4 linked regions of the Homo sapiens genome follow. The protein of the gene in region 1 interacts with the protein of each later gene in a biochemical or structural test. Each region holds a gene or a part of one and is shown on either strand. Other genes may lie near its edges. The genes, in order: IQGAP1, PIP5K1C, EZR and BRAF.

Region 1 (7,246 bases):
GCTGAGGCAGGAGAATCGCTTGAACCCAGGAGGCGGAGGTTGCAGTGAGCCAAGATCACGCCACTGCAGTCCAGCCTGAGTGAGAGTGAGACTCTGTCTCAAATTAAAAAAAAAAAAAAAAAAGAAACAAGGGTCTTAGATATGACATGACTCATCCAACCCTACAAAATGCCAGGACCCAACCATCTGCCCACCCCACTGGACCTTATCACACACCTATATGACTCAACTACATCTGCTCTAATAGCACTGCTGAATTAATTAACTTTTATTAAATGGTCTTCAACCTTACAGAGGCTCTTTATTCCTTATCTCTGCAGTGACAAATTCCCATCTAGTTTGTGAGTTCTAAATAATTTGGTCTCATGTTTTATTTCTCACTACTCACCTCCACCCACAGCTCCATTCTAGACATGTAGTCTAGTCGCATCATGCTCTTCCCTCCTTTGTACCTTTGTTCACATCGCTCTCCTGCCTCGAATGCCCTCTCTTGTCTTACATGCACACCCAAATCCTTTCCACCTTTATACATCTGGCTCCGGTTCCACTTCTTTTAGGAAGCTTCCTAATGCACTGCTTCACTGGCCTCTTTCCTGAAACTTCTCTTATTTTTCAGTCAGTAACATAGTTAATTTTGAAACAGTTCATCACTGTTTCAGGTATATATGTCACATTTCCCCAACAAGACCATGGGTTCACTGAGTTTAGGAGCCACATTCTGTACTTTTCTTCTATCTACCAAGGCATGTAACAGAATTCAAAATATATAATATTCAATAAATTGCAGTGAACCCTACACATTCATGGTTTCAACCAACCCTGAAACTGTTTGAAAAAAAAATACAACAATACAAAATAATACAAATTTTAAAAATACAGTAACAACTATTTACACAGCATTTATATTGTAGTAGGTATTATAAGTAGTCTAGAGATGATTTAAAGTATATGGGAGAACGTAAGTATATGCAAATACTACAACATTTTATTTATTTATTTATTTATTTATTTATTTATTATTATTTTTTGAGACGGAGTCTCGCTCTGTCGCCCAGGCTGGAGTGCAGTGGTGCGATCTTGGCTCAATGCAGGCTCCGCCTCCTGGGTACATGCCATTCTCCTGCCTCAGCCTCCCAAGTAGCTGGGACTACAGGCATCTACCACCTAGCCTGGCTAATTTTTTGTATTTTTAGTAGAGACGGGGTTTCACGTGTTAGCCAGGATGGTCACAATCTCCTGACCTCGTGAACTACCCACCTCAGCCTCCCAAAGTGCTGGGATTACAGGCATGAGCCACCATGCCCGGCCAAATACTACACCATTTTATATAAGGGACTTCAACATCTATGGATTTTGGTATTGGCCGGGGGTGGGGAGAATGGGTGCTGGAAAGAATCGCCTGTGGATACCAAGGGATGGATATACGGGATGGGCACAATGATTCTGCATGCAAGTGCCAGTGAGCTTCCTGTCCAAAGGACATCACCTGGACTCAGGAAGCAAAAACTTTCTCAGACGAGCCATAACTACCACTGTCCCCCAGTTACATTCATGCTCACCCCTAGGCTACCAACTGTTATTTGTGTCTCCCCTCCTTTCTCTGACATGCGCCTATCGGGAGAGCTTATCTACCAAACAAAGGAGTATGTTAGACCCTAAATTTTACCTGTTCACTGGTGGCTGGTGTTTCTAGGATTTCAGTCAAGGTCTCTCCTGGCTGGAACCGGATGACATCCACAATTAAACGTTTTGTACTGAAACGAGATGGGGGAGGCATTTAAATATTACCAGTGTTCTAGTTCCTCTCAAGTGGACCGAAGCAGCAGCAGCAGCAGCAGCACAAACAGTACCTCACAGAAGTCCCAAGCGGCAGCTGCCAGTACACAGTACTCAAGGCACAAGGCTTATTTACCCAGCCATTCCATAAGTAGGTACGAGGGTTAGGATTTCCAAGATTTACATTTCACTGTAGCATATTAGCAAAATAAGGCAGATAAGTCCTGTACCAAGTACAATATGCGAGGTGATTGGTGACTGGGATTATGACAAGTACGAGAGGTCAGGATGGTCATTTCAGGTAGGACCCAGCAGGTTCCTCTCCAAAGGCCAAGAAACCTTCAGATTACATTCATTTCATTCTTCCTTCTTTTGATACTCACTTCAGTAAGATGGTTCGAGCATCCATTTCTGCATTCTCATCTCCAGGCACGTCGAACTTGTTGGTCAGGGTGAGAGACACTTCCGTCTTAGCCAGTGCCTCCTTATTTGGGTCATTTAAATTGCCAGAGCTTTCCCCTGAAGTTTTGGGAGGGTGGAAAGAGTCAGCGTAATAAAGAGAGGAGATATTGGGGGGAAATAATACAAATATAAGATGATGCAAGTCTAAGATAATACTTGAATCACCTAACACATACAGTGTGACGAGAACAACTTTTACTGAGAAATAAAATGTTATGCCAAATGATAAAGGCAAGGGATCCATAATAACTCCATAAATGTTTGAGAAATCATTTCAACACTACAATATCACAATTCTCTCTGAAAACATTCTTTCTGGCTGGGTGCAGTGGCTCAGTCCTGCAATCCCAGCACTTTGGAAGGCTAAAGGAGGAGGATGGCTTGAGGCCAGGAGTTCGAGACCAGCCTGGGCAACATAGTGAGACTCCATCTCTATTAAAAAAAAAAAAAACAACTCAGGAGGATCACTTGAGCCTAGGAATTTGAGGCTGCAGTGAGCTATGACTGCACCACTGTACTTCAGCCTGGGCAACAGAGGGAGACCCTGTCTCATAACAAACAAACAAAAAAATTCTTTCCTTTAGAGGACTTTTAATTTATGTATCTGCAATTTTTTTAAAAAAACACAAGCTGGCAGTATGTATCTGCGTTTAAAATGATCTTTTCCTCTGACTCCAGTTCCTTATAGATATTGATCACATCTGGGCTTTTGTTGTTGTTGTTGTTTTCTCTCTTATGAAACTATCAGGATCACATCTATTTTATTTCTCAATGTATATCCAGAGTTTGGTATAGTGCAAAAAATAGAGGAGGTGACAATTACAACACTTTTCTGTCACATTCCCTTTTGATCTTCCAGGCAAAAGTTAGAACTCTACCTATCAGGGACTCGATGGTGGGCACCTCGCCGAGGTCGTCCAGCAGTTCGTGGATTGGATCATTGTGCTCCGGAGCAATGGCATCCTGGTGATCCAACAGGAGCTGCAAACACCAATGATCAACTCCATTTATACATTCAACTCTTCAGCCCGTCCCTCCCTAGAATGTCTAACAATGATCTGCACAAAGAGGTTCCAACAAAGTTCCTATATTCAAAGAAACAACAAGCAAATCCTCAGCAAACTAACCCAAATAAACAATATGATATATAAGGCACCACACCAGGCTCTGTTGAATGACTTATGTTATGATATAAGAAGAGGAAATACTGGTATTCTCTTAACCTCATGGCCATAAAGGATTCAAATGTGCCCTGTTTGAGAAAGAACACTGGCTGGGTGCAGTGGCTCACGTCTGTAATTCTAGCATTTTGGGAAGCCAAGGCGGGTGGATCACCTGAGGTCAGGCGTTCAAGACCAGCCTGGACAACATGATGAAACCCTGTCTCTACTAAAAATACAAAAATTAGCTGGGCGTGCTGGTGTGTGCCTGTAATCCCAGCTACTAGGGAGGCTGATGCAGAAGAATTGCTTGAACCCAGTAGGTGGAGGTTGCAGTGAGCCAAGATTGCGCCATTGCACTCCAGCCTGAGTGACAGAGCAAGACTCCATCTCAAAAAAACAAAACAAAACAAACAAACACAAAAAACCCACAAAACACTGAAACTCAAAGTTCAATACCCAAAGTCATCAATGTACCCTACTGCCAGTTCAAATAAGTCACGTGCACGCTTTTACTTAATGTTTCCAGTGTATGACATGATTTAATTCAGAGAAAAGTATACCAAATCAATGTTATAATTATTGTAGGGGCACTCAACAAAGTCTTCAAGGTGCCATTATCCCCAGTGATGCCCTCAGAAATGACAGTAACCTGAAATTTCATTTACATTTTAACATATGCCCTTGTTCCTGTTTTACATGTCCATGTCCCCAGAGGGGAAAAAATGATTTGAAAAATCTGAAGAAACATGGAGCTCCAGCTTCCAAGGGAAAAATCCACTCCAAGGCTACACAGAGAAAGCTAGTATTCTAGATCATGTTAGAAAAATAACGCAGAGAGCTAGGGTAAAAAGAAAGAAGAGTAAAAGCACTATTTTATTAAGGCAATAGATAAATTTAGTGGGATTTTGATTCAGTAGGCCTGGGGCGGTGTCCAGGAAACTTCATTTTTAACTATCAGCCCATAGGATTCTGATGCAGGTGGCCTGGGAAGACCTTTTAGAAACTTAGCAGTAGATACTGTTAAGAATAACAAGCAAAAGGCCAGGCGTGGTGGCTCACGCCTGTAATCCCAGCACTTTTGGGGGCCGAGGTGGGCAGATCATGAGGTCAGGATATCGACACCATGCTGGCTAACACAGTGAAACCCCGTCTCTACCAAAAATTCAAAAAATTTAGCCAGGCACGGTGGCGGGTGCCTGTAGTCCCAGCTACTCGGGAGGCTGAGGCAGGAGAATGGTGTGAACCCAGGAGGTGGAGCTTGCAGTGAGCCGAGATCGCGCCACTGCACTCCAGCCTGGGCAACACAGTGAGACTCTGTCTCAAAAAATAAATAAATAAACAAAAAAGAATAACAAGCAAAAAAAGAGACATCAAGGAGATGCATTGTCAGTTAGATTACAGGAAGGTTAGACACCTGGCTACCAGAGATGATAAGCAGCAGCCAGGGATAATAATTAAGGACAATGAAATTAAGTAATTAAAGAAAAATACTTACAGTGTGGGTGTTGATGATTTCACCAATGGAAATGTAGATTACTGGTTTGGTGAGGGTTACTAAATCAGAGTACTCATCCACATTAAATTTATCCTGAAGCTCTGGGACATCACAAGCAGTTTGGAAAAACCGTCTGAAATAAGCACAGGAGGCAGCCCCCCAAAAAGGGACATACACATGAAGTTGGCAAGAGGACATTTCACAAACCTCTCACACAATGAGTGCAAACAGAAGCCAGTCAACAGTTACTTCAAGAGAAAGTGCTGTGTGTTTGCTGTGCTTGACAACCTTGGGATAGTGGTTCGAATAACTTCTTTCTCCACCTAGTTTGTAGTTTTAGTTTTACCCATAAGAACCATTGCACCATGACTTAAAAGTTTCCAGACACCATTAGGAGAACCAATTCTATCTCTAAGACAGTGCTCTGAAGCACTGAATTCAAAACTAGATGTTAATTTACAAAAATTAAAAGCATTCTCCAATTCTTCTCTGATTACAAGGTAACATGTACTAAATGCATAATCATCATTATTTTTATGTTAACTACTATCTATTTCATAAGTGTTAACTACTATCTATTTCATATGAAAATTCTCTTCAAAGTAAATGGATCATCTTCTGGAATCCTGGGCACATCAAACACGTCTTCTACATATGGCAGTCCGGGGAAAGTGAGAGGTGGTTTTTAATCTTATTTTTCCCCTCAACAATAAAAATACATCCACAGACTCTCTTAAGCACTTGTGCCTTTCCCCTTACCTGAATTTCTGGTAGGACTGGGAAAGATATTCATTAATGATGCTTAAGTGGGCATTATCTCCCAGAAACATCTTATTGGAAGCAGCATGCTGAAGCATTTTTGCAATGGAGCCCAGATTTCGGCGTTGGTCTGTGGTAAGCTGGCCTCCTGCTGACAGGTCAATGATGTCAAAGGCATCAGGAGCAACAATGGCTGGATTCATGTATCGATAATAAAGCAAGTTACCAATAATCTGGAACAGACGAAACAGAAAGATGGGTATTAAAAGACATACCACCAAGGAAGCTATAAATGACTTTGCTAGCAAAGAAAAGCAGAAAATGCAGTCCTATGAGGAAAAAATAAATAAAAAATACATATACACACGCATGCATGCACATATACACACTCTCTCTCATGGCCTGGAACTAAATGAAATATCCCTTTGTTCAATACAGGAAAACAATGAGAACAGAACTGAAAACTACTGCCAGTAGTTAATGAAAGAGCAGATTCAGAAGGTAAAAATGACACACTTAAAGTCTGTTATTAAGTATTTCAGGGCATCTTTTGTTCACATATCATGGTAGCAAATAAGGCTGCTGTCACCCACATGCACTTTGTACTTTCATGTAGATGGGCTTTCCTTATAAAAAGCTAACAAACATAGCTAAATTCCTTAACATGACCCAATCAGCATAGAGTAACCCCACCTCCCAACATTCTCATGCTGCAGACTTCAAAGGCCAAGTTCATGCCTCTGAAATTAAATTCACTTAACACACATCTCTTCCACAGAAGAATTCAGGGGCAGTCACAGCATTTCCCCTAGAGTTTCATTCAGAAGAAATAAAATTAATTCACCTGAACAGAAAGTCTAGAATCGAGGCCTCACTGTAGGAAAGCACAGAACTAGGAGAGAGAAGAAAAAAGCATTCAGATTAAAAAAAAAAAGAAAAGAGAAGAGCATAGCTGAGTAAGAAAGAGTTATCAGCAACAGCCTTAGCAGAAACAACTGTGCCTGCTACTATTCGCCAGGTCACCAGCAGAGGGAACAATACTACAGCGAAAAGATAGGACTCAAAGAAACTCATCTGAAAACAGGAAAAATCCATCTTTCTACTTGTTTGATGTTTGTGTGCCAAACTATAGGAAGTGTTTCATCCTAAGAGAGGTACCATTTACCAATTACAATTGCTTTCAAAAGCTCACAATCAATGGTAAGCTACTGCCAGAACCTACACTTAGGCAGTTAGTAATGATCTATGGTCAGCCCTGGTTTTATTGCTTTGTCCTCAAAGGGCAGGAGTCTGCCGGCTATGAGATTCTTACCTTCAGCAGCTCATCCTCACCAGCATCAGGGAACTTCTCATGCAACGAGTCCTTCAGCACTTTGGCAATGAAGCGCATCCCATAACTGCGGGATGGACAAAACTTAGTGAGAAGGGCCAAGGAGCAGAAAGGCACTTAGTGCTGGGTTCTACTGGGGGTCATGACAACTGATGGCACTCACGGGATTTTGTCCACAGAGCTGACAATGGCTGAGAGAAACTTGTCTGTCACAGCCCGCATGTTCCTGATGGAGCTGTCTAGCCGTGTCTTCACTTCTTC
Region 2 (7,246 bases), on another chromosome or scaffold:
GCAGCGTCCCTGGCCTCCACCCACTCCATGCCAGGAGCACCCCCCAGTTCTAACAGTCACAAATGTCCCCAGGCATCGCCCAGTGTCCCCTGGGGGCTAGGATCACCCCGGCTAGTCGAGAACCACTCCCTTCAATCAAAAAATAAACTTATGGGAAAATCCACCATCTGTGAATACAACCTAGTAAGAAAGAACTGCTTCATGATGAAACCTCGGGGTGCTCTTGGCTCCTCTGGGCCCGCAGCAGGTGGGCGCCCCGACCTCCCGCCGAGGCCGTGCTCACCCTGCGTCCTCCTCTTTGGGGACCACAATCTCCACGCTGCACGCAGGCTCCACCTGCACTGTAATCTGCTGCAGATCCTCTTCCGCGGGTGGCTCCTCCTGCGGCCTGCAGGCAATGGGAGGTTGTGCCTCGGTTTCCCTCCTCACTTCCCCCATCCTACCCCCAGGAGTGCCCAGTGAACTCCAGGGCCAGTCCCAGAGGGGAGTTGGGAGCCTCCTGATTGGGTCTGTTCTTTCTGGCTGTCACTCCCAGCCCGGGGACTGTCCACCTGGGTCCCTTGGTGACTGTGGTGCCAGCAGGGCCTGGGGTGTAGCGGGCTCTGGGGGCATATGAGCAAATGGCAGCCCCGACCGGTGTGGGTGCCACAGACCCTGCCCACCCTCCAGGCAGTGCCTGCACCTGGCAGCCGAGGCCCTGACACAAGTGACTCAGTGTCCCGGCCGCCGGGCCTGGCCATGTAACATGTCTCTCCAAATGGCACGCTAGACTGCAGGGAGGGTCACATCCCACCCAGGGCACCAAGGGGTTTCTTTCACCAGGCGGCAGCGATTAAAACACGGTTAAGAAAAGCAACACCGCGCCACTGCCCCAGTGTTCACAAGAGTGAGACCCCAGGGACCTCGCAAATGTCCCCGAGGGCTGGGCACTTAAAGCCAGGTGCAGTCCATGGGATGGAAGGACGGCACGCAGGCGTGACAGGAACGGCGCGCACCCACCCCTGAGATCCCCGTCAGTCGAGTGACAACAGCAAGGTGTGGGCGGCGTGCACGGGTGTGCCCATTTGTGTCAAAATAAAAGGGAACCACAAGCCTGGTGCACGTCTGCTGTGTTCCCAGAAAGTATCTTCCAAGAGACAAAACCCACAGTCCCAGTGGTTGCTCCTGGGGAGGGGACAGGCCGTGGGCAGGAGGGGGCGCATTTCACGATATTCCCTCTTGTATCTTGTTTTAAGTTAAAAAAAAAACTTAATAGAAGAAGAAATAAGGAAGGATCCACAGACCAGAGCTGCCCTGGCTCTGGCTGTAAGAAAAACAAAGTGGCTGGAAGATTGTGTGCGGTGCTAGGGCCGAGTGCTACAATCTTAAATCTGTCCCCAGGAGAGAATGGGCAGAGAGCAGAGGGGCTGGGGGGCGGGAAACGGAGCTGGGAGCTGTGCAGGAGGAGCTGGTGAGACCCAGGGAAGGAAGGGGGTTGGGTCTCACCTGCCATCCTGTCCAGACGACTGTGTGCGCCGCCTGCAGAGATACAGCAAACACGTGACACCCAGAAAGAGAGTGGCCCGCCTGCTCAGTCTACCTGCCTTGCCTACCCGCCTGCCTACCTGCCCCCTGGCAGCCCTGCCCACCTGTACATATGCTCCTCCCTCCCACACATTGGATGCTCCGCCCCCGCGCACCCACATGCAGTGTATGTACATCCACCGTACATACGATGCTCCACCCACATGCACAGCGGATGCCCCGCCCACATGCAGTGAATGCCCCGCCCCCACGCACAGCGGATGCCCCGCCCACATGCACTGCGGATGCCTCGCCCACCTGTACCGCGGCTGCTCCGACGTCTCCGAGGGGGACCGCTCAGGAATGGAGAGGGATGTGGATGACAGAGTCGTGGCAATGGAGGCTGTAGTGGCTTCTTCGAAAGAAGGTGGCGTGCAGGGCAGGAGGTCGGGCCGGCCTGAGGGGAGAGGACTGTGGGCACCTTGCGGAGCCTCCGAGCCCCCAAACACACAGTCGATTCTCCCTGAGGCTTGGCTCACCCTGGGAACCCACAGCCCAGTGCCCGCCCGCCTCCCAGACACTCCCACCTCCCCACACGGCAGGGAAGGACGACGTTCCCCCTCACACAAAGGCTTCTGACCGCTCTCAAAATAGAATCCAGACAGCCCAGAGGGCCCTGTGCAGCCTGGCCCCGTCCCCTCTCCACTCTCCCTCCCCGCTGTCTTCCCCTCCACTGCTCTCTTCCCCTCCCCACCCCCCCTCCCTTCCCCTCCGCGCTGCTTGGCCACACGGGCTCCTTGCTGTTCCCTCAGCAGGTGTGGTCCTGCCCCAGGGCCCTTGCATGGCTATGTCCCTTCCTTCATTCCCTAGCCTGGGGGCTGCATGCCTTCGATGGCATCCTGGTGCACCTCAGATGACAGTGGCCGTGAGAGAAGGCGGGAGCTGTCACCACCCCACCTGGTGGAGCCTTCTATACTCAGCTCCCCCTGGGCTCTTCCCTGGGGCGGTCCCAGCAGCCCCCACTCCCTGGGCAGGCGGCCCTGCAGATCCGGAGGGGGTGGCTGAGCGATGGGCACTCAGGATGAGGCGGCACCCCACCCACGGGGCTGCTGCTGGCACCCCCTGTAGCGCCCACAAGCGCACTCTGCCCTCTGCCCCTCACCTTCGTCCTCCAGCGTGGGGTAGCTGCGGGCCCCCCGCAGGTCGTACTGGGCCTCCTCCCGCTCGCTAGGGATCTGGCTGGCCGAGAAGGCAGCGGTGGGCCCCAGCGGTTTCACAGCTAGCAAGGCTCCGCCGCGCCCCTTCTTGGAGGGCGAGGACTTCAGGGCTGCAGGGAAGGGTGGGGGTTGGTGCTTGGGGTTGCTGGGGGCTCATAGCAAAGCCCAGACAGGGCCGCCGCCCACATATACCCCACGTCCCTGTGGCCCACCAGACCCCTACCGGTCCCTGAGGCCAGGAAGCACCACAACCTCTTGGTGGAAAACCGGGGTCTGCCTGGGGAGGGACTGCGAGCCCGAGTTCCCTGTCCTGCCCACCCGACTGTCTCTATGAGACACACTGGGACCTGGCACAGTGCCTGCCCCTCCTGGGATCCTGCAGACCAGTGACTCCCATCTAATGAGCTGGCCAGGGATGCCTGCAGGCTTCAACCCCTTCTATGTGCGGCCCAGCCCGGGCAGGGCCCCCACTTTCAGATGGACACTGACAGCCTTGGGGAGCACCAGGTGTTGTGGTTAGAGAAGCCTGTGGCTCAGCATGTAGGGCCTGAGCGCAGATCCAGGCTCACCCGCTGGCTGTGCGGCTCGGTCTCTCTGGGCCCTGGGGGCCGACCTTAGCGGTGGGGTGAGGTGGGGCAGGTGATGTCCCGCACAGGGCCAGGCCTGTCCTCAGTGCTGTGTGAGCTCTGCCTCCTCACCAAGCTCTTGTGACCTCTGCCCCCAGAATGACCCACACAGCTCCTGGTAAACAGTAGGTGCTCAGTTTGCCTTGTGCAGCTTCCTACAATCACCAAAGGCTGGCAAACAGCCCTGGATGACGGAATGATCCTGTGGCATCGGTCCCAGAGAGTGGGGTGTGGGGACAGGCTCAACGGCTGGCTCTCTGGAGACAGATCCTGACACGTGGTGTCTGCCAATTCCCACGGTGTTGATGAGAGGGGGTCCCTGACCTCGAGGCCGTGAGCAAGTGTGCAGGCCGGGAAGAGCAGCCTGCCTGCAAGCGCTGGGCACTGGCGTGCCTGTCCCTGCCACCTCCCTGCAACCCCCGTGGGTGCGGACCCGCAGATCATTCATGCCCCCCACCAGACACTTCCCAAGCATCTCTGTGGGCCAGGCCTGTGCAGGATGCTGGGGAGCCCGGGAGCCTTCTGGTGGGGAGGGTGGCTGAGAAACAGACCCCAGGGGGGAATCCATCTGGCAGCAGGTTGGCCACGGGCTGAGGTCTGCACAGGGGCCTGGAACCCAGAGTCTGCGTCCAGATGCTACAGTGGCCCATGAGGGGAAGCTGAGCCCTGAGAGATGGGGACCTCCCCCGGGCACCCTGTGGGTGAATCCCGAGTCCCCACCTTCCCCACCACTGTTTGCCCTGGGACCTTCCCGACCATGCCCTGCTGGGCTAGCCTCCTGCGTTCCCCTGCCCGGGGTGCGTTTCCTTGGCGATGGTGATGCTGTGGGCAGCCCCACACACTGTGAGCTATCTGCTGAGTCAGGCCCACCCATCCCATATATAAACACTGTACCCTCACAGTGCTGTGCCAATGGGGAAACCAAGGCACAGAGGCAGGTGCCTGCTCAAGGCCACATGGGCAGGACGAGGCCAGGCTAGGATTCAGGCTCTGGCGGTGGCTCCAGACCCGTGCTCTACCGCTGTGCAGAGCAAATATCCCGACTACCCTACCTCCGGATGAGGCCCGGTCTGAGGGGGGCACAGGGGCTCTGAGTTTACTGCCCTGCCCAGGGGGCTCTCGGCCTCCCGCAGAGTCCCTCCTGCCCCACGGCGCTCTGGGCCTTCCCCAGGGTCCCTCCCGCCTTGCGGGGCTCAGGTGGCTTACAGGAGTTCTTCCGAAAGACCGTGTTGCTCATGAACTTGAAAAAGCGCTCGGCATAGAAGCTGGGGCGGTGGACGGACACCGTGTCCTGGAAGAGAGTTGGGGGGGGTGCCCGGGGGCAGAGGGTGCATCAATCAACAGCTGGGGACAGCCCCAGACAGACGCTGTATGTGTGTGGGGGGCACCTTCTGTGTGAAAAGGCTCGAGATGGGTCCATGGCGCCATGGCTTCCTGGGAGGGGCTCACGGAACAGGGAACAGTGGCTCCCTCTGGGGAGGGAGACTGGGTGCCAGGGAATGGGTGGAGGCTTTTCCACTAGAGACCTGTTAGCATTTTTGACTTTTTAAACCAGCTGAATAAAGTATTCCGGCCAGGCACAGTGGCCCACGTGGACTTGTAGGGGAGGCTGAGGCAGGATGGCCTGGCTGGGGCCCTGCTGGGATGTGATCTCGGCCTCCCAGAATGCAACCTCCTTTCCCAGCCTCCTTGGGTGAGGAGTGGCCACGTACCAGGACTGTGAACGACTCCACCCCCGCAGGCTGCAGTGGGAGGTGGTGCCCGGCCACTCTGGGCCAGGGGACAAGGACAACCCCAGGGACATGCGGCGGCAGCACAGGACACCCTGGCCAGCCTCGTCAGAGCCGAGACAGCGCTCCTATCTGCCCTGGGCAGCAGGTTCCGGGCCTTGGCAAGGTTTAAGACATCCCCAGAGGCCTCTGCCAGCTGCCATCCTGACCCGCTCAAGGCTTATTCTGGAAGCTCCTGCCTGGACCTTCTACACGCTCTTTTGAAAAATGGGGGTGCCTGTTGGGATCTTGGATTCTACAGGCTGTGGTCACACAGACGTTAGTCCTCAGTGCCTGGCCCCAGGCGGTACTCTGCGTTTGTGGAGTGACGGATGGGAGGAAGGCTGGGACGACAGACAGGAGGACAGAGGGAGGAAGGATGGGAGGAGGGGTGCAGGCACTCACAGAGGGAGGAGGGATGGGAGGAGGGGTGCAGGCGCTCACAGGGAGGAAGGATGGGAGGAGGGTGCAGGCGCTCACAGAGGGAGGAGGGATGGGAGGAGGGGTGCAGGTGCTCACAGAGGGAGGAGGGATGGGAGGAGGGTGCAGGCGCTCACAGAGGGAGGAGGGATGGGGGGAGGGTGCAGGCACTCACAGAGGAGGGATGGGAGGAGGGTGCAGGCACTCACAGAGGAGGGATGGGAGGAGGGTGCAGGCACTCACAGGAGGAGGAGGGATGGGAGGAGGGATGGGAGGAGGGTGCAGGCACTCACAGAGGGAGGAGGGATGGGAGGAGGGTGCAGGCACTCACAGGAGGAGGAGGGATGGGAGGAGGAATGGGAGGAGGGTGCAGGCGCTCACCCCATCGTGGACGAGGGCCTTCCAGGTGTGCTCCAGTTTCTTGATGAACCTGTGGAGAGAGCACCCGGAGTGGCAGCTGACATCAGCCAAGCCCATGCCAGGCCACCTCACTCAGGGGCCACTGTGCACCCCCCAGGACACTGGGCCATGGCCTCAAGCAGTCGTGGCTGTCAAAACTCAGGGTGGCAGGTGCTCCTGGCAGGGAGTGGGTGGAGGCTCTCTGCTCAGTACCCTGCAGGGCCCAGGACGGCCCCACCCCAGAGAACCATCTGGTCCCAATGTCCATAGTACCGAGGGGGTGACTGTTTTTAAACATTCTAGAGCCCCAGCTGAGCACGGTGGCTCACACCTGTAATCCCAGCACTTTGGGAGGCCAAGGCAGGCAGATCACCTGAGATCAGGAGTTCAAGACCAGCCTGGCCAACATGGTGAAACCCCATCTCTACTAAAAATACAAAAATTAGCCGGGCGTGCTGGCGCGTGCCAGTAATCCCAGCTACTGGGGAGGCTGGGGCAGGAGAATAGGGTCGACTCAGAAGGCAGAGGTTGCAGTGAGCCAAGATCGCACCAATGCTCTTCGGCCTGAGTGACAGAGCGAGACTTTGTCTTAAAACAAACAAATGAAAAACCAAAAAACAAATATTCGAGCCCCAAAGTGAGGCCTCAAACCCACTCCTTGGATTTTCTTTTTTCTTTTTTTTTGGGACAGGGTCTTGCTCTGTCACCCAGCCTGGGGTGCAGTACGGCCATCATAGCTCACTGCTGCAGCCCCAGACTCCTGGGCCCAAGGAATCCTCCTGCCTCGGCCTCCCAAGTAGCTGGGACTGCAGGAGCACCACCACGCTCAGCTAATTTTTTGATATTTTGTAGAGATGGGGTCTTGCTATGTTGCCCAGGCTGGTCTCAAACTCCTGGGCTCAAGCAATCCTCCCGCCTCGGCCTCCCACAGTGCTAGATTACAGGTGTGGACCACTACGCCCAACTCACTCTAGATTTTCAAGGCGACCAAACACCTTCCCTTTAGGGCTCAAGAAGGGGCAGCCAAGCAAGAGCTTTCCAGGTTGAGGAAGCCCCGAGAGCTGCTGGTGCGGCTGTTTCCACGGGCAAGCGCCTCTGTGCATGGGTGTCCTGGGGGCGCCCATCCACCTGTGGGACTGCAGACCCAGGCGCCCACCTGTGGGGCTGCAGACCCGGGCGCCCACCTGTGGGGCTGCAGACCCGGGCGCCCACCTGTGGGACTGCAGACCCGGGGCGTCCACCTGTAGGACTGCAGACCCGGGCACCCACCTGTAGGACTGCAGGATGTCGATGATGCCAATGTGCAGCAGCA
Region 3 (7,246 bases), on another chromosome or scaffold:
CTTGCTTTGCTGCCAGAAAAGACAAAAAGCACAAATAAACAAGCACCTGACAGCGTTATAGGTGGAGACCGAGTTCTATGAGTGCAGTAAAGTGGGGCACGGCACAGAGATGGAGCTGTACTTTAGACAGGGTGTTCTGAATCAGGAATGGACTTACAAAACATCTGCAGTCAGAAATTCACATACAGACTATAGTAGATCAAAAGCTCATTTTAAACTATCAATGAGGAAAAAAGCAATTCATTTACATAACATTCTCTTTCCAACTCAAACATCAGGTACAAATTGCTTTCTTTTAGCATATGCCAGAAATCTGTCATTACACAATAGCTTAGCAAGTGTGACACAAGATACTGCCACTTTCTCTACACAAAGACCCACCCAAACACCAGCTTTGTTTAAAACATTACCTCAGCACCACGATGCCTCTCCTCAGTAGTTTCTGAGTCCATGCTCAGAGTCCATGATGTGCTCAACATTGGCTAACAAAACACATTCTGTTCTTTGAGAACAATTTTTTAAAAACTGGAACCAATGGGGTGGATCTGCTTCCAAATATTAGTCCAGCCATAAAATATATACAAGGTTAGAATAAATGCTTAACAATAATTATTTTTATGCTAGAAGCAGGAGTTGGTCCATTTGTTTCTCTAAAGAGCCAGCCAGTAAGTATTTTAGGCTTTGAGGGTCTTACTTGGAGTCCGTTGCATATTGTTGTTTTTAAAATCCTTCAAAAATATAAAAACCATTTTTAGCTGGGAGACCAAATAAAAACAGGCCACAGCCAGACTCGGCCCTAAGATGATAGTTTACCTACCCCATCCTAAAGTAAAAACAATTATTTACAGTATCTGAAATGACAACTGTCCACACAGGCAGTTTAAAATTGATCTCTCAGGCAAAAATGGAAAACAAAATTAGGTTGCAGAAGTGACTTCTAACTTAAAAATATGAGCAAAATCTGATATACTGACTACTAGAGTTTGATCCTCAGGTGATACTGGTTCCTCTCCTATCAATAAAAGGTGGGTCATGGTGAGATATTTTTTATTTTGCTTTTAAGGTTTTGTTTTCAAGTATATTAGATTAAAAGGATAACTTAATGAAGTTTTACATTTCCTTTGAAACAGCATTACTGTTTGCCTGTAAGTGTTAAGAACGGGTTAATGAATAAAGGAAAACAGAACTGACCACTGCTGACTGGGAAGCCCACATCCCTCCACACTTACCCAAAGGATCTTACCAGCCGGGAGGCCCTCCCTGGTCTCCAGGGCACACTTCTCTTCTGTGAAGACCTCTATCATGCACTACACTGCATTGTAATTGCTTACATATCTGCTTTCACTAGGAGACTGAGAACTCCTTAAAGGCAAAACCAATCTTATTTTTATTGTCCCTGCACCAAGCACATAATGGGATATAATAGCGCTTCAAAACATGAAGGTGGTACCCATGTGACTGATAAGGGAATTCCGACTAGAACACACAGAGAGAGGATGGACATGAGACAAAATCAGAGTCCTCCCTTTTACTAAGATAACCCAAACTGTTCATATTGCTTTTTCCTTGAGAAGACCAATGGACAAACTTTACCCGTTTATAGGAACCCAGAGTTTTTACCTAACAGGGTTAAGTTTGAAAAACATTTGCGGGGTAGGGAAACACAAAAGAAACACATAAAGCTTACAGCATCTTAAGATGAGTTGTTTGGATTTCACTGATAAAAACTTTGTCTCCGTTTATCTTATGTAACATTCTTTCCACTTAAAAACTAACTCCCATTTTACGGCTGACGAAATTTAGGTTCACAGATGCTAAATGGCTTCCCCAAATACAGGTAAGCAGTAAATTAGCTATGAAATTCTCTTTATAGCTCTTTGTGGTTTCATTTTGAAAAAAATTATGTGTATTAACTATATCAAGCATTTCAGTCAAAAGTCTCTAAGTCACATTATAGCACAAGGGTTTTGTTTGGTTCTGAAAACTACCCAAGTCTGGAAAAATCTTTTTATGTCAACAGGCATGGATGGTAAATACATCAGAAGGAAAATAATGCAAACTTTGGTCTTTTCAACACACATTTACTGCTGAAATTAAAAACTAATTGGAGTACTTGGGGAGTCTCAAGGTAGTTACTACTGAAATGAAATAAGGGATAATTCAAAATGCATTCACTGACTTTGAAAGCAGACTGAATTTCACTGCTTCAGAATAGAGCTGAAACATCTAACTACCATTAGAAAGCAGACTGAATTTCACTGCTTCAGAATAGAGCTGAAACATCTAACTACCATTAGAAAGCAGGTATATCAAACCACCCTAAGAATCTCCAAATTGTCAAAGAGATATAAAAGTTTAAGTTAAAAAAATTAAGAAAAAAATTATAGTTCACTAAATGATACTGTTTTCCTTTCCCAAACTATAATTATTCAACATTTGTTAGAAATCACATTATCAGCCAGGCATGGTGGCTCACACCTATAATCTCAACATTTTGGAAGGCCAAGGTAGGAGGATAGCTTGAGCTCAGGAATTTGAGACTAGCCGCCTGGGCCACACAGTGAGATCTTGTTTCACAAAAAAATAAAAAATTAGCTGGGTGTGGTAGTGTGTGCCTGTGGTCCCAGTTACCCAGGAGGCTGAGGTGGGAAGATCACTTGAGCCAAGGGTGGGGGCCGGGGCACTGAGGCTGCAGTGAGCTGTGACTGTGCCACTGCACTCCAGCCTGGGTGACAGAGTGAGACCCTGTTTCCAAAAAAAAAAAATTCACATTATTTCATTAACAAAAGAGGCCAGTGTGGAAGGAATAAAAGAGGAACAAGGAATGGGATCTCTTACTTCCCTACCATTTATAGGGAAGGTCTAGCCTCTTTTTTTCTCTTTGAAAACAAAGAGCCAAAATGTGAGAGACCACTGGGCACTGCCAAATGAAGCTGTTACTGGACTCCCTGCAGAGAGAAACTCAAGTCAGAAGAATATTATGTTGAATGGCCTGCCCAAGTATAGGTAAGCAGTAAATTAGCTATGAAATTCTTGTTTTTATGGCTCTTTTTCACAGAGTCATCCTAGCCCCTATTCGAGTCCCAAATACCAATAACAGCACTCCTGGCATTTCAGCCGGACTGTAAGGCGGCTGGGCATCAAGTGACTGCTTTCACCCAAATGGGTGCTCTGAAATCACACTGGGCTTGATTGGGGTGCAGGAGAAAGGAATATATAATAACTGCCCTTTTCCTATTGAATCAGCAGTACCATCTGGAGAGCTTATTTAAAACATAAGCACCCAGCCTGCACCTCACCCTAGAGATGGAAGTCATTAGTTCTTCAAGGGACCCAGGAATCAACAGTCTCCAGACAATTGTGTACACAAAATTTTGAGAACACTGCACTAAATTAACCCTTCCTCTTAACTTTAGGTATGTACGGTGTGTACATATACTAGGGAAAACAAAAAGCTACTGAATTATTTGGATTTAAAAATAACGTAGTTTAAGGAGTCTGGTCCTTTAATATTTTGGGGGGCAGTGGATGTAGTAATGAAAGAAGGCAAGGACTTTTTTCATCAACGATTGTCACAAACTTATTAACATGTAACAACAAATCCAGACTCCCCACCTTCCCCCACACCTGGTCCTTCTCCAGGATTACTTACCTCAGCGATGGCACCACCACACATCCACTTGCGCAAGCCAGAAACGAGAAGTCAGCCTCGACACCACCCTTGGCCCTGCATATCCAACCCATCACCAGGCACTATCAATTCTACCTCCCAAAGAACTCTCAAATGCATCCACTTCTGTTCCCACCACCACCACCTTGGTCCAAGCTATGAGCTCCCTCAATGGTCTACCATAACTACCCTTGCTGTCTCCTGCCTCCTGTGATTTTCCTATTACAGATCACAGTCAACTTTTCAAAAGGCAAATCTGATCATGTCACCTCCCAGTCAAAACCCCAAGTTAAACTAAAAAACACCCAAGAATGGCTTACAAGGCATGGCCTGACCTGTCTTCCTCTCTAGCCACATTGGGCTTCATGTGAAACCCCAAACTCACACTACTTCCTCCCACCACAGGGCCTTTGCACACGTTGTTACCTCTGCCCAGGGAGGTCACGTCCTCAAGGATGCCTTCCTGACCTCCCCTATTTGCACCCCCACCAGCACATACACACTTCATCTACTCTCAGGCCTCATGTACCCCTCTTCAGGCATACTCTCTGAAGCTGCAGTTTTACATTTACTCTGGGATTGCTGTCTGTCCCCGAAACCAGACTGTAAATCCACTGACAGGGACTGTGTCTGTGAACATCCAAATACATTCATTGTGCCTTACAGCGTGATCATGGCAAATCACTCATCCTACCAGCACCTCTCACTGCCACATGGCAAAATGTTAGCTACCTAATTCACCACTGCCCCTCGTGGAGGAGGAGGGGTGGAAACAGATGCTACGCATCCTCCTCAATTGCGAGGGGATTGTGAGGGGGGAGTACATTCAGTAAACTGTCCCTGTTAAAATATTTAATAGAAAAGGTTATGTATTCCCAAAGAGGCAAGGTAATCTCAGAAATTACCTTAAAATTTTGGCACAGTAGAAATGTGAACACACTTTCAGAGTTTTCCTAATGAAAGGTAAACCTGCTTTTGTATTAGAAATGTCTATAACACTTCAGAAATGAACAGGTAAGATGTGTTGGAGCCACTTAAAGGCAGTTCAGCTCTATGGTTCTCATGACAGCTTAAAGAGATCTCAGCCCTGAACACAATCCCCTTTTCCTTCCAGAGCTTAACTACAGCAGTGTTCCTTGCTCACTCCCCATGCCTTCTTTCCACTGGGCAGAAGAAAGCAAGTGTGGGAGAAAGGCGCTCCGCAGTCACCCTAACATGAAGGGGCGGGCAGAGAGGATGCTTCCGGGACCAATGATCTGAGCACCAACTCCTACAACTCTCCCTAGATGGGGCAGACCCACAAGGCCACACAGCACACCATGTCCTGGGGACTGGCCTGAACAGAGGCCAAGGCTCCCTCTGGAACCCCAAATCACCCTCCTTGGACGTCAGCCAGTCACACATGAATAGAGTCCCTAAGCAGCTGTGGGAAAAGCAAAACCAGACAACAAACCACAGCTGTTCCTCCCTGTGGAGTGCTGCCGCGTGCGCCCCCCAGCCCTCAAGCAAGATTCAGCTGAAGTGTTACTTCTCAATACAGTCTGCCAATTTCCCCATCAGATGATTTTCCTTTCCCCATCAGATTTTCCTCTCGACGTTACCTAGGCTCTTTCCCAGTCTGACAGCACTTAGCGGGTTTTCAATTTCAGCATTTACCCCGCATCTTGGCCCAGGTACCAGACACTAAGCTTCCAGAGAACAAGGTCTGCCTCGCCCTCTGTGCAGGTCACTCCGCTTGCTGATGAATAAAGTCTTTTTTTTTTTTTTTTTGAGACAGAGTCTCACTCTGTCGCCAGGCTGGAGTGCAGTGGTGCAATCTCAGCTCACTGCAACCTTCACCTCCCAGGTTCAAGCGATTCTCCTGCCTCAGCCTCCCAAGTAGCTGGGACTACAGGCATCCATACCACGCCCGGCTAATTTTTGTATTTTTAGTAGAGATGGGGTTTCACCATGTTGACCAGGATAGTCTTGATCTCTTGACCTTGTGATCCGCCCACCTCGGCCTCCCAAAGTGCTGGGATTACTGCCATGAGCCACTGTGTACCGCCTCAGTCTTTTAAGTAACTGTTGCTTTTGGGAAACAGTATTAGGAGAAAACACAGGAAATGAGTATTTTCAGTTATACTGTTTTATGAATAAAGTCATCCACTCACTCAGTTCAGGCAAATCAATCAAAAATACTTTGCCCGTTGAATTCAAGGGTTAACAGTTGCAATGAATCAGGTGGAAGGCCAACTACTCAGAGGTATCCATCCTTTAAGTGTGTTTGCCCCTTAATCCAGTTGTTAAACATTAAGCCCAAGAAAACCACCTAACATTCTTCGCTAACATTCTTAACTTAGGCTTGAATAATTAGAATCAATAAACCTTTGTTTAAAGGACACATCCACAGAGCTGTTGGTGGATGTTTCATTTTAACATTTACTAAGGCAGCAAAAAAACCCCAAACCAAACCAAAACTAACTGGATCCTCTCTAACAGCCTTAAGAAATGTCATATTCAAATATGTGCAACCTACGATGCTCTTCTCAGTGATTTGTGGGATGGCTCTAATATAATTTACACACAGAAAGGCTTAGTGTGTTTAACTTATCTCTAAGACCCTCCTCTGCCAAAGAGGGGGCAGGGAGAAATTTCCCATGGCAGACAGGTATGGCTGACCTAAAAGGAAGCCTCTCAAAAAAGGGGTTTTGTTTGTTTTCAGACAACATCTCACTCTGCTGCCCAGGCTGGAATGCAGTGGCTTGATCTTAGTTCACTGCAGCCTTGACCTCCAGGGCTCATCAAGCAATCCTCCCACTTCAGCCTCAGTCAGAGCGCCAGCCACCACACCCAGATAATTTTTCTATTTTTTGTAGAAACAGAGTCTATGTTGGCCAGGCAAGTCTCGAACTCCTGGGCTCATGTGATCTGCCTGCCTCAGCCTCCCAAAGTGCTGGGATTACAGGCTCGTGCCTGTAATCAGGCCACCTCGCCTGGCCTCAAAAAAAGTTTAAAAATTTTAATTGTAGATATTATACAGAATACAGTCTTTCAAAGAGTAACTCTGGCTCTAATACACAAGGTGATGGCTACTGTCTTTCCTTAACAGTTTCACAACTATCTTCACTTTATCAAATGTCAGAAACATCTTTTAAGTTCTGATCTATCATAAAAGACCTCTAAAACAAAATGAAATGAAAACATACCTGCCATAAGAAATAAGAGAGAGAAGGGAGTTCTGACATTGCAACATGGATGAACCTTGAAGACATTATGCTACAGGAAATGAGACTGTCACAAAAGGACAAATGCTATCACGATTCCACCTGCATGAGGTATCTAAAGTTGTCGAATTCATAGAGACAGAAAGTAGAATGGTGGTTGCCAAGGGCTGGTGGTGGGGATGGGGAGGGAGAGTTTAATAGGTACAGAGTTTCAATCTGGGAAGATAAAGTTCTGGAGATGGACCTTGGTGATGGCTATGTAACAATGTAAATGTACTTAATACCTTGAAATGTAAACCTAAAAGTAAGAGGATAAACTGTATATTTTACCAAAATACAAAAAAGAAACCATAAAAATAAATTACCATTC
Region 4 (7,246 bases), on another chromosome or scaffold:
GGGGTAGGGGGAGGGGAGAGGGACAGCATTAAGAGAAATACCTAATGTAAATGACAAGTTAATGGGTGCAGCACACCAACATGGCACATGTATACATAAGTAACAAACCTGCAAGTTGTGCACATGTACCCTAGAACTTAAAGTATAATAAAATAAAAAATAAAAATAAATTTTTTCCATCCTAATATTGACTTCAGTCTTAAATTTAAGTTTTGTATTTTAAGAGTCATACTTTTAACTACTATTCTTCCAGAGAATTTTTCTTAAGGGGATCTCTTCCTGTATCCCTCTCAGGCATAAGGTAATGTACTTAGGGTGAAACATAAGGTTTTCTTTTTCTGTTTGGCTTGACTTGACTTTTTTACTGTTTTTATCAAGAAAACACTTGGTAGACGGGACTCGAGTGATGATTGGGAGATTCCTGATGGGCAGATTACAGTGGGACAAAGAATTGGATCTGGATCATTTGGAACAGTCTACAAGGGAAAGTGGCATGGTAAGTATGTAATGTGGTGACATTGTGACAAGTCATAATAGGATATGTTTAACAACTTTTATTTTGTAAAAAATATCATCAAAGGAAATATTCACTGTTCGCATCAATAAACTATTTTGATTAGTTTCAGGACTCCTCCAAAAGTTTCTAACAAAAATTATGGGAAATAAAAACTGTTCACAGCAGTCGGGACTCCTACCATTTTATTACAGTAATAATTTTTAAAGGGGAATTCCTCCAGGTTAACTAGTCCTCAAAAGGATTTTATTTTCTTTTAGAGTCTTTCAGCTGATAATTTTATTTGTATTATAAGTCACAAGTAAACATATTAAAAATGTACTTAATGGCTGGGCGCAGTGGCTTATGCCTGTAATCCCAGCACTTTGGGAAGCTGAGGCTGGCTGATCACGAGGTCAGGAGATCAAGACCATACTGGCCAACATGGTGAAACCCCATCTCTACTAAAAATACAAAAATTAGCTGGGTGTGGAAGCACGTGCCTGTAGTCCCAGCTACTTGGGAGGCTGAGGCAGGAGAATCACTGGAACCCAGGAGGCGGAGGTTGCAGTGAGCTGAGATTACGCCACTGCACTCCACCCTGGTGACAGTGAGACTCCGTCTCAAAAAAAAAAAATTAACAAAGAAATATAAGTGGCCAGTAAACATATACAAAATGTTCAGCCTTACTAGTTATCAAAGAATTGCAAATTCAAAAAATAGACATCATTATTTGCCTCTTAGTTGGACAAAATCTTTTTAAATTGGATTATATTAAGAGTAGTGGATGTATTTTCATCAAAGGTTTAATATCAATGAAAAGTGAAAGTGAACATGTATCCAACTAATAGAGAATTGGATAAATTTATACCATCATATGTGATTATATAGGAGTTAAAATGGCATGGTAGAGGTACATTTATTGATGTAGAAAGGTGTCTTTGGTATATGAAATTTTTCAAAGCAGTATGTGTAAGATACCATATTATGGAGCTCATAGAAATATATAACATAATTTTTTATATGACAGTATTTTAGGCCAGGCACAGTGGCTCACGCCTGTAATCCCAGCACTTTGGGAGGCCGAGGCAGGTGGATCACCCAAGGTCAGGAGTTCGAGACCAGCTTGGCCAACATAGTGAAACCTCATCTCTACTAAAAATACAAAAAATTAGCCAGGCTTGGTGGTGGGCGCCTGTAATCTCAGCTACTCAGGAGGCTGAGGCAGGAGAATTGCTTGAACCTAGGAGGTGGAGGTTGCAGTGAGCCGAGATCCCGCCATTGCACTCCAACCTGGATAACAGCGAGACTGTCTTAAAAAAAAAAAAAAAAAAGACTGTGTTTTAGTTTTTATCTCCTTAATCTATCTTTTCACAGGTGTTCATAAATATTCACACTAAATTCATGTAAAAGCCTAATAACATATAATGTCACTTTTGAGTGACATAATTAAGGGAATTTTTTTATACCTTCAAAATGTCTTTAAACTTTTCTTAAGTGCTGTACAGTATTTTATGATACAAACAGTAGAATAAGCACTGTATTACTTTGATAATTGAGGAAAATCAATGTTGATTTAACTTATTAAAATATACATACAGGTTGAGTATCTTTATTTATTTATTTTTGTTTGTTTTGTTTTGTTTTGAGACAAGGTCTCGCTCTGTCGCCCAGGCTGGAGTGCAGTGGCACAATCTCAACTCACTACAACCTCTGCCTCCCAGATTCAAGCAGTTCTCCTACCTCAGCCTCCTGAGTAGCTAGGATTATAGGCGCGTACCACCACCCCTGGCTAATTTTTGTATTTTGAGTAGAGACGAGTTTTGCCATGTTGGCCAGGCTGTTCTCAAACTCCTGACCTCAGGTGAGCCACCCACCTTGGCCTTCCAAAGTGCTGGGATTACAGGTGTGAGGCAGCACACCTGGCCAGGTTGGGTATCTTTAATCCAAAATCCCAAACCCGAAATGCTCCAAAATCCAAAACTTTCTGAGTGCTGACATGATGCTCAAAGGAAATGCTTATTGGAGGATTTCATATGTTTGGATTAGGGATGTTAAACTGGTAAGTATAATCAAAATATTCCAAAATCAGAAAAAATTTGAAATTTGAGACACTTCTGGTCCCAGGCATTTTGGATAAGGGATACTCAGCCTGTGTATAAAAGTGCACATAAATTAGCCAGGCATGGTGGCATGTGCCTGTACTCCCAGCTATTGAGGAGGCTGAGGTGGGAGAATGGCTTGAGCCCAGGAGTTCAAGGCTGCAGTGAGCCATGATCACACCACTGCACTCCATCCAGCCTAGGTGACAGAGCAAGACTCTGTCTCTAAAAAAATTAAATAAACAGAACATTACTAGCACTCTAGAAACACCCTCCCATGTCCTCTTCTAGCCAATCACCTCTCTCCCAAGGGTAACCACCACTGTGATTACAACAGGAAGTGCATAGTGTGTACTCTTTTGTGTCGGCCCTTTTCACTCAACATTGTTTATAAGATTCATCTATATTGTTGTGTGAAGTTGGAGGTCATTCATTCTCTTTACAGTATTTCATTGTGTGACTATAACATGATTTCTTCTTTCATCTGTTGCAATTGGATCGTTTCCAGTTTGGGGCTTTGATTGATGCTGGTGCTGTAAACATTTTTAGTGTATGTCTTTTGGTGAACATGTAACCATTGATGGGTATATATACCTAGGACAGAATTGTGAGACCACAGGGTATGCATATGTCCAGTTTTAGTAATGCTGCCAACAATGTTACAAAGTAGTTGTACCAATTTAAACACCTACTGGCAGTGTTGACGTTACAGCTGTTTCACATAAAGTTTTTTTTTTTTGATGATTTTAATAAAATATCATTTTCTTTTTTTATTATTATTATACTTTTAAGTTTTAGGGTACATGTGCAAAGTGTGCAGGTTAGTTACATATATATACATGTGCCATGCTGGTGTGCTGCACCCATTAACTCACATGAAGTTTTTTTTAAATTTTAGTGACAGTTTTAGTCATTTTCCTAATTGAAAGTATCATAAGTAATCCATAAATTTGAAAAAAATGTTAACTACTCTGATAAAAAAGTTTTATAGTTTCCTACTTTTAAGCAAAATTCCATAGGGCCTGGTAATTGTAGTTTCAACATTACTTGCAGTTTCAGTTAGTAAATAAATATTAAGCCTAGTAAGTATAATTTAATATTGTCAAATAATTTGGAAAATACCATGGGTACTTAATTGATTTTACCAAATTTCCATGGAACAAACAAGGTTGGCTATTTTTTGGATTGATATTTTGAAATACTAGTACAGGAATATCATTGTTAGTTGAATTTTTAGCCTTAGAAAACAAATGGAGTTTAGATAGCTAAAGTATAATTTATTTGTGATTTAATAATGGTATGGAGTTAGGGCTATGATAATTAGTGAAAACACCCAAGAATGTTTTATACTTTTAAATTTTAAAAATTGAAATGACACTTGGAGTAACAATTGCCTTTTAGGTGATGTGGCAGTGAAAATGTTGAATGTGACAGCACCTACACCTCAGCAGTTACAAGCCTTCAAAAATGAAGTAGGAGTACTCAGGTGAGCTTGTGTGAATTACTCTTTTCCAGAGAAAGAAGTTATTTTTATTAGCTCCTGGTTCCCAGTGGTAGCAACTATTAGCTTTACAGATTTACTCAAAATGAATAAATTTGTAGAAACAGAGTATGTCTGAGTATATTTTTGTCTTTAACCACATTCTTTTAAGTAGTATGCAATGTTATATGGTATGGCTGATAGAATACTTAGTCCTAGACTGAATTAATGGAAGTATAGTATTCTGATAATATAAAGTAATAGTTCTACTTATGAAAAGAATACTCTCCAGTTTTAAGCTTATCAGAATACATTTAGAGGTGGTATTTAGTCCTGGGCTCTGGAATTTTAGAAACATTGACAAACTAGGATATGCCTAGTGAGGACCACCTAAATAGGGAAGATTCTAGAGGTGTAACGGGGGAAAATAATCAACAGAACTGAGGATATTTAGTTCACAGAAGGCTGTTATGTTCAAGAGAGTGCACAGTTATTCCAGAGTGCGGAAAAAAAAGTTATTCCAGAGAGCAGACCAGGGAAGCAAGCCAGAGGTGAAAGTTGTAAGAAAATGATTTTGTCTCAACACTTGGAAACTTTATAATACCAGAACCACTTAAATAAAGATATGAGAGTCAGCTACAACTGAGTGATGAACTTCCCATAGTTGAAGGTATTTAAGCAACCTCTAGTTGCCTGTCAGATATATTTAAAAAGATATCTCTGCATAAAGTAGGAGGTTAGACTTGGCAATTGCCAGTCTCTTCTAAATGTATCCTTTTGTTGCCTTTTTTAAAAAAAAAAAAGCTTTTTCTGACAACATTTTACCGACAGACTACTTTGGTTCTCTTTTGTAAGAATTGCTAAAGTTTGTCGACATTTAATGTTTACTGTCACATTTCTTTGTACAGGAAAACACGACATGTGAATATCCTACTCTTCATGGGCTATTCCACAAAGCCACAACTGGCTATTGTTACCCAGTGGTGTGAGGGCTCCAGCTTGTATCACCATCTCCATATCATTGAGACCAAATTTGAGATGATCAAACTTATAGATATTGCACGACAGACTGCACAGGGCATGGAGTAAGTTCCATTCGTTAAATGTCTTGTAAATTATTTTTGAAGACCATTGAGGATGTTTTAAAGGTTTTGGCTGCTATTCTTTTGGATTGCATTTTAAATTACTGTCCAGGAACATAAGGATGCTAACTAATGGCTGGTAAATAATATGATACTAAAAAATAAATGTCTCTGTCTAGTGCAGCCTTCAGAACATATATCAAGTATTTGATAATAAATACATGACTGCAAACTTAGGCTTAGCACTCAGTGATTGAGCTAAGCAAGAGAGGTTCAGAAGATAGAAACAGCAAAAACCTGCTAAAAAGTTGTTAGCAGTTGTGCAAGTAAACAGAATGGTTGTTAGTTACTTTTTCAAATCAGTTTCTCTGAGTGCCCGTATTTTTGGTTGCAAAATGGTCAGTTAATAAAGTTAAAGTGAAAAATCTGCATTCTGACCCTTTTTGAGGATTTCAGAGTGAGTTCCTATCTGTTGAATTTTGCTATGCAATTTAAGGAGTTATTTTATAAAGTTTACCATAAGCTAATATGGGGAACTGACTTTGAAGGATAAATTTTAAATTTTGCAACTCTTAAGTGCAAATGAATAGGTAAATTAAAAGGTAAAATTAAACAAATTTTGAAAGCACTTAGGTGAAAATTATAAACTCAGTAAAATATGAATTTGAAAGCTCTGTGAGAAGTTTAAAAATAGATATGATCTGAATTTTGTTTTTTACAAATTGCTTTCACTTACATAGATTATTATGTCATTTAATCTTTATAATGTTATGAAGGAGATCTTTTTTCTTTTTACAGATAAGGAAATTGAGGCTTTTAAGTTCCTTGTCTAAGGGCACACATTTAATAAGTGGCACCAAAGGTGTTTAACTCAGGATTTCTGACTCCCAATCCAGTATTCTTTCCCCATAACCACTATGCTACTTTTACATTACAAAATTAGAATAAAAGAGTAAAAGGGTATATATGTACTAACACCTACAACTCTAACTGAGTATTGCTCCTAGCAAGTAAGTATAGAGCCAAGACTCTAAACCAGATCTGGCTCTTAGATCTTCCAACTATACCACCTTCTCTTTCTCAAAACTAGGCAATATATCTATAATTTAGATTGTTTACAAGCCTATATTCGGCCAAAATACTTATTACAGCAAATTATTACCTTATTCAGTAACACCCCCACTTACCCCTAGACTTGAAACAATCTCAACGTTTCAGATAAGTTAGAATCTCTGAATCTGTTCGAATCTAAAGGCTTTTAAAGAATTAAAATCTTGGCCAGGCACAGTGGCTCACACTTGTAATCCCAGAACTATGGGAGGCCGAGGCAGGCGGATCACCTGAGGTCGGGAGTTCAAGACTAGCCTGACCAACATGGAGAAACCCCGTCTCTACTAAAAATACAAAATGAGCCAGGCACAAGCCTGTAATCCCAGCTACTTGGGAGGCTAAGGCAGAAGAATCACTTGAACCCGGGAGGCAGAGGTTGCAGTGGGCCAAGATCACACCATTGCACTCCAGCCTGGGCAACAAGAGCAAAATTCCGTCTCAAAAAAAAAAAAAAAGAATTAAAATCTTGTGAAGAGTAAACCATGGCAAAGATTGTGAACATTCAGTGAGAAACAAAGGCTTATTCTCTTCCCACACCACTGGTCTCTTTGCAATTTCTTCAGCAGGCCAAGCGTGTTCCTTCTTTAGGACCTTTATGTTTGTTATATTCTCTTTAGGATACACATGCCACAAATATCCTTGTGTCTCGGTTCATATGTCCCCTTTTAATAGAAATCCTTGCTCACCTTATATAACTAACATGTCCCCACGTCACTCTGTCACTCTCTATACCCATAGGCTTGATTTTCTTTATAACGCATAGCTCCATCTGACTTGTTTCTTGTCTTTTATCCCCACTAGAATGCAGGCTGTATGAGAGCAGGGGCTTTTTTTCATTATTTTATGCCTAATGCCTAGAATGGGACCTGGCATACTCAGTACATAACTGTTAAATGAAAATGATTACACACAACTGCATATTATTGATAGATTTACCTTTCAGAAGAAAGAGATGCCAAATCCTTCTCACATCACAGCT

The links.
Region 2: the proteins of IQGAP1 (region 1) and PIP5K1C form a complex in vitro, tested with the Homo sapiens proteins (one study listed by IntAct).
Region 3: the proteins of IQGAP1 (region 1) and EZR form a complex in vitro, tested with the Homo sapiens proteins (one study listed by BioGRID).
Region 4: the proteins of IQGAP1 (region 1) and BRAF form a complex in vitro, tested with the Homo sapiens proteins (2 studies listed by BioGRID and IntAct).

The regions. Positions count from the first base shown.
Region 1 is NC_000015.10:90,482,003-90,489,248, reverse strand, and holds part of IQGAP1 (ras GTPase-activating-like protein IQGAP1), read right to left. Parts: coding exon 7,149-7,246; intron 7,053-7,148; coding exon 6,968-7,052; intron 6,548-6,967; coding exon of another isoform or gene 6,527-6,547; exon of another isoform or gene 6,500-6,526; intron 5,889-6,499; coding exon 5,656-5,888; intron 5,030-5,655; coding exon 4,897-5,029; intron 3,220-4,896; coding exon 3,117-3,219; intron 2,296-3,116; coding exon 2,160-2,295; intron 1,755-2,159; coding exon 1,667-1,754; intron 1-1,666. UniProt on the Homo sapiens protein: Plays a crucial role in regulating the dynamics and assembly of the actin cytoskeleton.
Region 2 is NC_000019.10:3,641,422-3,648,667, forward strand, and holds part of PIP5K1C (phosphatidylinositol 4-phosphate 5-kinase type-1 gamma), read right to left. Parts: coding exon 7,204-7,246; intron 5,966-7,203; coding exon 5,917-5,965; intron 4,638-5,916; coding exon 4,553-4,637; intron 2,831-4,552; coding exon 2,666-2,830; intron 1,961-2,665; coding exon 1,822-1,960; intron 1,519-1,821; coding exon 1,486-1,518; intron 389-1,485; coding exon 284-388; intron 1-283. UniProt on the Homo sapiens protein: Catalyzes the phosphorylation of phosphatidylinositol 4-phosphate (PtdIns(4)P/PI4P) to form phosphatidylinositol 4,5-bisphosphate (PtdIns(4,5)P2/PIP2), a lipid second messenger that regulates several cellular processes such as signal transduction, vesicle trafficking, actin cytoskeleton dynamics, cell adhesion, and cell motility.
Region 3 is NC_000006.12:158,809,123-158,816,368, forward strand, and holds part of EZR (ezrin), read right to left. Parts: intron 1-7,246. UniProt on the Homo sapiens protein: Probably involved in connections of major cytoskeletal structures to the plasma membrane. In epithelial cells, required for the formation of microvilli and membrane ruffles on the apical pole. Along with PLEKHG6, required for normal macropinocytosis.
Region 4 is NC_000007.14:140,774,826-140,782,071, reverse strand, and holds part of BRAF (serine/threonine-protein kinase B-raf), read left to right. Parts: intron 1-378; coding exon 379-496; intron 497-3,996; coding exon 3,997-4,081; intron 4,082-4,983; coding exon 4,984-5,160; intron 5,161-7,246. UniProt on the Homo sapiens protein: Protein kinase involved in the transduction of mitogenic signals from the cell membrane to the nucleus. Phosphorylates MAP2K1, and thereby activates the MAP kinase signal transduction pathway. Phosphorylates PFKFB2.